2 separate regions of the Homo sapiens genome follow, and region 2 is linked to region 1. Evidence: fine-mapped expression QTL. A gene starts in region 1. The other region holds a variant in brackets. All regions are shown on one strand. Distances are from middle to middle.

Evidence for each region. PIP is the estimated chance that this variant, and not a neighbour inherited with it, causes the effect. A credible set is the group of variants that fine-mapping cannot tell apart.
Region 2: its variant is the best candidate, but not a certain one, in a credible set for the expression of FGF12 in thyroid (GTEx, PIP 0.50).

What each region holds. Positions count from the first base shown.
Region 1 is chr3:192,724,374-192,729,765 of GRCh38, forward strand. FGF12 (fibroblast growth factor 12) reads right to left here and starts at 3,168. Exons shown (of 6, transcript NM_004113.6): 1 at 3,111-3,168; 2 at 2,808-2,950. The coding sequence starts at 2,820. LOC107986056 (a long non-coding RNA gene) reads right to left here. Exons shown (of 3, transcript XR_001740579.2): 3 at 3,350-4,181. It also overlaps the pseudogene RNU1-20P.
Region 2 is chr3:192,008,786-192,014,177 of GRCh38, forward strand. All of the region lies in intron 2 of LOC105374277 (a long non-coding RNA gene), which reads right to left. Among named protein-coding and RNA genes, the nearest start is that of FGF12-AS1, 230 kb to the right of the region's middle. The variant T/A (reference allele first, on the strand shown) is at 3,202.

The DNA of each region.
Region 1 (5,392 bases):
TTTTCTTCCACCCCAATATTCTAATTTCATTGGTATGCGGTGCCATCTCAGGATGAGTATGTTCAGAAAGTATGTCAGGTGATTCTAGTGTGCAGCAAACTTTGTGAACCACTCCTCTAAATACTAAACATTTTAACTCATTTAAGAATCTCAAGCCCTTAAGATACGCAAGGCACAAATTCCGTCAGAGCTGCTCGGACTGCGTACCAACCCAAATCTTTGAGACAATGTTAAGTACATGGTGCACAAAAATCGCTGAAATTAGATCATGAATTGAACCTCAGGTCAACTGATGTATTTTCCTCTCTTCTTTACCCTGTATGACAGGGAGTGATGCAAAGTTGTAAATAAGGAAGCAAAAATAAATTGATCTTATTTGTAAATAGCTGAAGTTCAACTTTCTGGATGCTGGACAAATGCTCTAAGAAAGGCTGTCAAATGCTAGAGGTAATGTGAAAGTTGTCAAGTGTTGGCGATGGGATTCAAGATTAAACAGGCCATTAGATCTGGGTATGGGATAGAGAACTCTTGAACCCTCAACTGAGTCACGCAATATGACTCTATCTTTAAAGAGTTTCTACTAGAAAAGTATTATATATACATACATTTGAGAATGTCTTCCTAGAATTAGATTTGAATCTGTTGGGGGAAGAAGTTTGTACACGGCAGCATAAAATGTGAAAGATGCACCAATTACAGTATTGCACAAATACACATTTCTCTTAATACACTCTTTTTGGCTGGAATAAAAATTTCAAGTTAGCTACCATCGTTAGCTGTGCCATTTGCACCAACTTAGAAAGTGAGGCCAATGTATAAGTAATTAGCCATTTTTAATCTGATTGCCAAGCAGCTAACACAGCTTCATTAAGAAAGTCCAGGAACTAACATGCATAAAGACTTTCATCATGTTTTTTTTTTTTTTCAGAGGCAATTATGGGACCTCTGCAAAATGACCACAATGTTGGCCTACAGCAAAAGTCTTCGTTGCCTTTGGATCAGTGCTGTGATTCACTATATCATTGCTGTCTGGATTGACATAGAACTTCTGAACTGATTCTTTTCGGATGTATTTCTGAGATTCTTTCTCCTTTCTGAATTCAAAAGACTGAAAGAACAGCTAGAACTCTACTGTTAGCAATATGATCATTAAACCACCTGGAATGCTAAGTGACACGTAGCATGTTTTATGGGCAACGAAGGAAAATAAAAGATTACTGCCGAGAGATATAGCCTCTTTTTATGATTGAACAGGAATTAGTATACACATTGGAGGCAAAACTGTTACCAAGAACCTTTGTCAAATAACTAAATTTAGTGACCAAATACCAGGTGTCATCTAAGCAAGAAAAACTGTTTCATAGTAAAATGATATTCTTTTTCTGTTGTTAACCTTATGTCCCAGAAATACTTAGTCAGCTAGAATATTACAAACCTTTATATGTTAAGGACTGCCTTTTTATTTTAAAATGGAGTATAATAGAGTTAATAATATATGCCTCAAATATACTTATAGACATGGATTCTCTCATATGTGTACATCATTGTCAGACGTGGAGATGCCCATCAATGTATCATAAGAATAATCTGCCTGAACTGAAAATTGCCTGCTAGTCTTAATCCATGTTGATTCAGCTCTTTTTATACTATAAATGCTTGCCTAGGTTCAAATACTTTAAATCTACCAATTAAATACTTAAAACACTTTATTGAACATAGAACTGCTATCATTCAACACTCCAGTTTCATTAATCAGCCCAGAAATAGGTAACTCACCACCATTCCCTGATCCTAAGTACATTACCACAGTGACTGACATTCCTGGTTTAAAAATAAAATCTTGTTTCAAATATAGCTTCCCGAGTTCTGGGTAATGAATATAGTTTCATAAAAGTTGACATCATTTCTTCTGATTTCGCCAGAATTAAATACATCCAGTATGCCTCCTGGATATCTGACCACCATATCACTCAAGGCTCTCACAACCTGGTGGGCGTTTTAAGGAGAAGGAGAAACAGACCTGCATAGATGGGGTTAAATCCAAAAGATATCTAATCTTGTGGTTAGAATAGTCGTTGTGTTTATGTGTGTTCAATATGCCATTCAGAAGTTGATTTTTACAGTTCATTTATCAGTTGGCATGCATACATTATGCAGATTTGCTTATGAGGAGAACATTAATATGTACATGTCCAGAACTAGTAAATGCATTATGCTTGGAAGCCAAGCAGTACTCCCATACACTGTTCTTCTTAGAGGTCAGTTCTAACGCATGCTGTTCCAAATAGACCCAATTTCTCTGCTGATATATATTCAAAATGCAGTAGGATGTGGTCATACACACCCAGAAATACCATCTTCATGAGGTGGGGGTGGTGAAATTCAAACATTTTTTTTTTAGCAATGCATTATTGGATATCAGGTACAAACGTGCCTGTCAGCAATTCTAAAGCAAATGAAATAGATTTATTTGAGTCCATCCATTATACAGAAAAGATATTGCTTTACTAACACATACCTCCTCCTCCTCCTCCATTTTGGGGGGACTCTCCCCACCTCCCCCCAAAAAACTCATCACAGTTCACTACGCAACTGATGGAGTATTAAACACTGTCTTCCAAGCTGTGGGAGTTAAAAAGAAGTCGCCTTCCTGCCACACTTCCCCAGTGCTGCAATGGACATAGCATCTCCTCCTCTATCGACCTAGTATGATGCTCGCTCCCCAAGCACTGCAGTCCCCTCGCCGAGGATTGCCTTGGCCACACGCACATGCAGCGGGAAGTCCCCCGATAGGGACAACCACATACCTTTGCTCTCCATTTCGGTCCCTTTCGAGTGCTGGGAAGTTCAATGGAAGTTGGCCGGAAGATGTGGGCCCGCTTCAGATTCCCAAATCTGGGAAGCCAATCTGATGATTTCGCCCGTACTTCCTTCCTTCCCCTCAGGCTTCCTGAAAGATGGGATTTCTTAAACCTTGAAGCTGCAATCAGCCACCAAAGGACACTTAGGAGCAGCAGCAGATTGCCTCTACAGGGGATACGTTGCGACGCGCATCTGATACTGAAATGCATGCACAGTGCCCGCTCAGATTTTTTTTTTTTTTTTTTTACCTGGGTCTGGAAGCTGCAGGCAGGAGCTGTCCTCCGAGCGTGGTGCTGCAGGTGTAGTGACAGATCATCCCACTTTGCTCTCTGGATGCACAGCAGATTTGCATGGGCGCTGGCACGCATGCGCAGGGCGTCCCCCCTCCCCTTTTCACCGCCTCCCGCTCCCCCGCCCCCTTCGCCTCCCTCCCCAATACGGTCCTCAGTTATCCCAGCTGAGGAGCTGTAGCATTCGGTCACAGGGAAGCGCTGCTAAAAATAAACGCCGGACCGGATTTTCCTCTGCAAACTAGAAAATGGATTGGACTAGTACTGCGTGCATCAGGACGAATTACTGAAGTCTTAGAGGAGGCTAGTGTCTCCAGGCAGGGTATGGTTTTATTCAGAAGGCAGGGAGGAGAGATTTACGAATCGTTTTTAATGTTCACAATTTGGGTTTCTCTTTCTACTTGCTGCAGTAACTTTCCAGCTGTCTGCTTCCCTCTCCTCTCCCCACTGACTTCACATTGCTTGTTATATTCCTGTATGTGTTTTGTTTTGTTTTTCGAGAGTGGGGTGAGAGTAGTTATGGAGCTGTCAAAGGTTAATATTCTCTCGCTTCTTTGTTACTCAAACTCAGTGTTTTCCTGCCTGCCTCCACCTCAAAACTGTTCCATGAGCAGGCTCCAAGGCTTCTAAAGTTCTTCAAAAAAGCCACTGAGGATATTTTGAGGTGCTCTTTTTAGCTTTTTTCCAACAACCTGCAAGAAGTCCCCAAAGGTGGGGAGGCGTCTTATTGATAATAAGTACTTCCAAAAGCAATACCTAATCATTTTTGTGAAGTTGCAGGGATAGAGTATTTTTCTTGTACAGAGCTCTAGAGGAAGATGCAAAACCACAAATCTCTTGAAGTGCTACTTTCATATCAAAATATTTCTAAAGCCCACACTGTATTTCGTTTATATGCAAAATGTTTAACAGGAAAAATTGTGTTGTATTTACTACCTTTTTTTTTCAATAGTCCAGATTTTCCTGAGGTGATCATCTCTCCTTGAGAATAATAATCTTATTCTCCAGAAGTCCAGAAAACTCTGTTATCTGAAATGGTTAAGGAAGGAGATGTGCAGATTAGTCACATACTCTACTTCATGAAAGATCCTTCCACAGTAGGCTTCTAGTCCCAATTTTCAAAACATTGAAATATAATAAAATGTACTCCCAACAAGAAACCTGGAGTTGTATCTAATTTAATCTTTTTCTGGTGATTCAGAGGGCATCCTTTGATTTTTCCAATGCCTGAGGGCCATGATTACAAATATTAACCACGGATGGTTCAGCCAGACATGGACATTATTAGTGGAGGACTCCCACTAATGAACTGCTGTGGGTCAGCAACGCCTGGATCCATTCAGCATTTAGGAGTATCGGATTGCAGAGGCCACAACCTAGGGCCTACTAATTTTTAGGTTCTCCAACTGTATGCCAAAGTACGTGTTTGGAAGAATCATAAAATTCAGGATTTCTTTTCAATGTTGAATAGGCTTAGGAAGTAAGCTTAGGGTGGGAGTAGTGTTGCTCCTTAAGAACAATAGTCTATTTCATTGAGATAAATAATTTCTGCTCTTAATACTGCACCCCGTTACATGTTCTTTCCTTCTCAAAGGTTTTAGAATAGGAGATATCTTTAGAATGCATCTCTATGTACTCTTCATATTTATTCTTTTACAGACGGAGAAACTAAAGGCAGGGGAGGAGTGGCACTTGAAAAGAGTCACATGGTGAACCAGATCTGGGCTCAGAACCTAAGTGTCATACCTCAAAGGCAGAGGCAAGCCATCTATAGTCCAGAATGATTTTTCATATAACTGCCTTCCCATTATCTACAGTGAATAAGAACAGGGAGAACCTTCTAGTTCATAAATTATCATTATTTTTATTCATAATTTTAAGAACCCAGCTGCTTTATTAAATAGAAAGCAAATCAAATTTAATGCAAAATTTGTGTTCTGACATTCAAGATCTTTCCATTCTTCTCCAAGCTTAACTCCTAGACAACAATTGCTATTATCCTAAACAAACCTCAAGATTGTTTTTAAACCAGGGGAAAGTGGGATCACAGACCCCCACTACCACAAATTATGCAGTCTAGTTTCCCACGTATGGGGAAATTGCAGGGGTCAGCACATCTGGAATGCAATTGATAAGCCTTGACTGGGAAAACAACCTTCTTGCTCATGATAGCTCCTCTGTCAAGATTTTTCTTACCTTTGCTTACATAGTCATTGCTGGAATATCTTGACCTCATCAAA
Region 2 (5,392 bases), 720 kb before region 1:
ATCTGCAAACGTTCTGTCAGAAGGTATATTTCCTAGTTGTGTGGAAACTGTCATTTGGCAGTTTCTGTGAGGCCTCCAAAGAACCCAAAAATGCAACTCATGAGAGAGTTTTTGCAAATATCAAGGGCATCAAACCAAAGAGTACAAATAAAATAGTAAAAATTACCTAAAGCCCACCCGCCTTTCTTCTGGCTTCCACTCCCCTGCCCCAGCCTCAGAAGAGTCCACAGCTTGAGAGATTATGATAATTGAAAGAGCCAGAAGAAGAGTGAGAAAACAGACTATGACTTCTTTCCCACTGCAGATCCCTGAGCCATGAGCGAGGCATCCATTTAAAAGAGGAGTGAGGCATGGAAATGAACAAGAGGCTGGCATTTTGTGGTTGGACTCGACTATATCTTTAATACATTAAAATAAGTCATAGTTATAAAAATAAGACTTCTATAACTGAATATTACCAAAAAGAAACTTCCACTTTTAGCCATGATGATGAAACAGGGACTGGATTTACACTTACAATGGAAACTATGAACAAAACCAGGTAAAATATATGAAACAACAGATTTTAGATGTTGGATATCAGGCAGCCCAAGACAGTGATTCCTGATTGAGGAGGGAAAAAATAAAGTAATTTGTGTGATAGCCCCCAGCTTACAATCTATAGAGAGTATACAGGTCATTGTGCAGGAAGAAGAACCTGAAAAAAGCCCAGCCATCATGCTAAATTAAGACAGACTGTAGGGTACAGCGATGTCATCGTGTGTAACTTTTTCTAGAGGGAGTACTGGAGGAGAAAGAGCTAAGCAAAGAGAGAGTTCTAGATCCCTATGGAGAGGCAGGGAAAGGAATCTAAAAAAGCCCAGTGGTGTCCCTAATTTAAGAGACCTGAGGGTCCAGGGATGTCAAGTTGTTCAGCTTTCTCTAGACAGAATACTGGAGAAGACAGAGCTGAGCAAACAGAGAGTTCTAGATAGCTAGCTGTAGAGAGGTCCCTCAAGTCTTCAGCTGAGTACTGGTAACCCAAGTGTGTGAGGAAAAGCAAATCTTCATGAGCAGGTGAATGGATAAATAAAGTGTTGTACACTTAATGAAATACTGCTGGTCTATAAAAAAGGGATGAACTATTGATACATGCAACTGCATGGATGGATCTCAAAATAATTATACTAAGTGAACGAAGACAAACAGAAAGAGCACATCGTGTTTTATTCCACTTACACACAATTATGGAATATGAATACCAATTTACAGTCACAGAAAGCAGATCAGGGCTGGTGAGATTAGGGTAGGGTAAGGGGGTGAGAAAAGGAGGATGACACAGAGGATGAGGAAACTTTAAGGAGTGATGCATATGTGCATTGTCTTGGTTGTGATGATGGATTCATGGGCATGTACATATGTCAAAATGTATTAAATTCCACAATTTAAATTTGTATATAGTTTTGAATTGAGTTATAACTCAATAAAGCAGTTTTAAAATGGAGGGTGACAGATCTTACTAGAATGTTTTCAAAGAAGAGAGAAAGGAAAGTAGACATCATTCAGTTAAACGTAGTCATTGGGGAAATTAGAGCCATATTTTGGTGATAGCTTCTTTGATTTCAATTTATTCTATCAATTATTCATAGCTACAAGTGGCTTAACAACGTGCTTAAAATATAATTCTGAGTTAGTAACATAATTTACAGAGTTCCCCATTATGTGGGCACACCTGTATCTCTAGTCCTTTCACACACACTACACTGCATCCCTACCATATTTTCATTCAGTGCTATTTACACTCCTGAACTTGATATACTATTTTTCACCTTCGGTTCTTCAATCATTATGTTCTCTGCCAAAATACACTTCTCCCACCAGCTGCATCCCTATGCCTCATTCTCCCAAGAGGTCTTTCCTGACAGCCTACTCTAGGTTGAGTACCCATGACAAGTGTTCTCAAAGCATGCTACTCTATTGCACCTCATAACACTCATCAAGTTTATATTACTTGTTTTTATAAGACCGTAAACTCTCTGATACATTTATTGCTATATCCCCAAGAATATAGCCCAAAAACTAGTTTATGAATGACACTCAAAAAATATTTGTTGAATGACTGAATATGAAAGAACCCAAACTTATGGGTTTTATTTTTTTATCTTGCCTCTACTCATTTACAGCAGTAAATCTGCAAGCTTCAGAAGTTAAGAACTTTGTCCATTGTATTCACCAATGTTTCATTGCACATGGTATCTGTTTAATAAAATTTATTTTGTGAAAGGCACTCTCTTAGGCTTTAAGAAATTCACTTACTTGTTTGTTTTAAATTTCAACCTCTAAGGTATAAATCTATAACCATAACATTGCTTATTGTTCTTTTGCCTAATCTCTAAAAAAAGTTTAATAATTGAATAGAATTCAATTAAGCGTTCTCCTAAAACTAAATCTGAGCATGTTTACAAATGTCCATGACCTTCCTCTGATCCATCTTTTCCAAATGTATATATTACATGAAGTCCTTAACACTCCTAGGCTCACAACTATGAGTCATCTTTGGTTTCTTTGTCTCCTTCATCCCTTGTACCACACTGAACACAAAGTTCTGCCAAGTCTTCCTCTAATACATTATGCAACAAGTCTATTGTCTGTTGCTGACCTACAAAATACTGCAAGAGGCACTGATACAAAAATGGCCTCTAATCCCTGAAGGCTTACCACCTCTTAAGGAGAATGTTGTCAACAAATGACAAAATATGCTATAAAATAAAGAGATTTCCATACAAACATGCATGTACCGTGTGCTCACACAGAATAAACTTTTCTGTTGTAGAAGGTCAAAGGAGAATATGCCTATTTTCAATGATACAAAAATATGTTGTGGAGAAAGACACTAGCAAATGTAGGTAGAGATGAAGATGTAATAAGATGTAAAATAATTGTGAAATCGTGTGTGCCCACAAGTTGGGCAGTGTAGACTGAAGTTACTGAGCAATAGGTAGATAAGATAGTGATGCATTTCAATCAATAATATGTAAGATTAATCCAAAAATCCATCAATGTTTGAAATACACATAGGAGAGAAAATAAAGTCAGAGATTAAATTCTGCTCAGAAAGGTTCATGTAATATGTAAGTAAACTAAGGTGCTTATAATAAGAATAAATATAAAATAAATATAAGAGATATTACAGAAGTTCATCCTGTCATGTTAGAAACTATC[T/A]GGATTTGGAAAGAAAACCAATGATTTGGTGATTTACAAAGCACTTGTGTCATACCTCATTTTGATTCTCACGAAAGCTTTATTAGATGCAATGACATAGATTCATTGGATTAGAGAGTACACTGAGCCTAAGAGAAGGAAATAGTTTACTTAGGGTCATAGTAGATAATCTAGTGGCAAAGTAGGAACTCTGACCCATATGTGATTTTTAATGTAGCTCCCTTTTTTAAAAAAGCATCAAAAAATGATTCTTGGAATTTTTTAGTTTTAAGCTTTTCCATTTCCAAAACCCAAGAAGTAAAGAAGGAGTTTTGGCTGAGTGGCTCGTCATAAATAAATGTATTATCTTCAATTTTCCTCTTATTTAATTCATGTAAGAACATATGAATAGTGCCTGTTGTTATGATATTTCTCAACTTCAAACCCACCCTTCTATACTCTATTTTGAAATGCTGAGGCTGGGACTGCAAACTTGTGCTTTGGCAGCCTTTCCATTAGAGCTGGTCAACAAAAATTGCTACAAAGAGGCTGCATACTTGGAAGAAGACAGGACTTGCTTTTGTGTTTTCCTGAGGGCTCTTTGTGACCTTGTGGTTCTCATGATCAGGACCTCAAGAAAGCTTTGTCCTCATAATAGTTAGCAGTTGTTCCTGTAGCAGCAGCATCCCTTCCTCAGAGGTATGAGTCCCAGAACCCATGAGGCCAGACCTCTGAGCTCAGAGACAACAGCAGCACAGAAGCGGAACTCCCTCCTGAGCAGTGTGACTTAAAGATCTACAGCACCCTTCCTCCCTTGCTCCTTTTGTTTTCTCAGCTATAAGGATGGCAGCAGCTTCTACAGTTTCCACCTCTCCTACACCTTAGAATTATTCTTTATTTGTTGGCAACTTTATACCTACTTAAAATTATTTATATGAAATCTCCTTTGTCAAATTACTACTGTGTTTTCTGTCTCCTGTTTGGACCCTGACTAATACATCAAGTTTTCTAGGACTCCCATAGTAATCAAATTCTACAGAGGACTTCTATTGCCTCATGCTAACATCTCCAAATAATAAATATGTACCAACCCATTTAACCCATCCCTAACAATTTTTGCTCTTGCTTTACATATAATTCTTCTTATCCTCTAAGGAAATATATCCCCTGGTTTCTAAATACATTGTCCCAGAATGCCTTCATTATGCTTCCTTGCTTAAACTATTTTCTTTTCCTTTCTTTCTTCCTTCTCTTTCTTTTTCTTTCTTTCGTTCCTTCCTTTCTTTCTTTCTTTTTTCTTTCTTTTTCTTTCTGTCTTATCTCTTTCTTTCTTTTTCTGTCTTATCTCTCTTTCTTTCTTTCTTTCCTTTCTTTCTCTTTTTCTCTTCCTTTCTCCCTTTCTTTCTCCCTTTCTCTCTTTCTTTCTTTCTCTTTCTTACTACATCTTTCTTTCTCCCTACCTTTATCTATCTATAGTTTACCACTTAGAGCACCTCTAGATTAGATTCATAATTTCTGCCCATTCTAATTATTGCTATTGATATAAATCATATATAAATAAAAATATATATGTTGTATAAATGTTAATGATTTATATAACAAAACAATACAATATAGGTAATAGTATTCTACTTTTAAAAGAGTAGCAATAATTTCATCACAATGTTATCTAAAAGAGTCTCAAATTGAAAACAACCTAAATGTCTAACATTAGGAAAGCATTGAAGTAATATTGTATATATGTTTAAGTGAAATATTATACATATAATAAAAATATTACCTACAAAGAATTTAAGTGACGTTGAAAATTGATTATGACTTATGTGAACAAATAAAGATATAATATATAACCATGACATGATCTTAACTATGTAAAAATATATAAAATAAAAACTACACAAAAAAGGAAAAAGTTGTTAAATAAAGAAGGAATCTGAGGATTAGTGAAATTGTGTCTCTTATGATTTTCCTCATAGGTCATTATATTTTTTTCACTTTCTCCCACTAGCTTCCACAGTCCTCAGAAAGGGAAATGTTGGTCTATAATACACAAGATGTATTCAAAGTATCTCACGTGGTCCTCTGGATGAGGTCGTGCCAAACACATGTTTTCAGAGTCATTACTCTAATCATGATTTGCCTACTTTGCATGTAATTTTCCAGGTGAACTTCTCATCTATATAGGGTACTAAAGAACAAAAAATTTGGAACC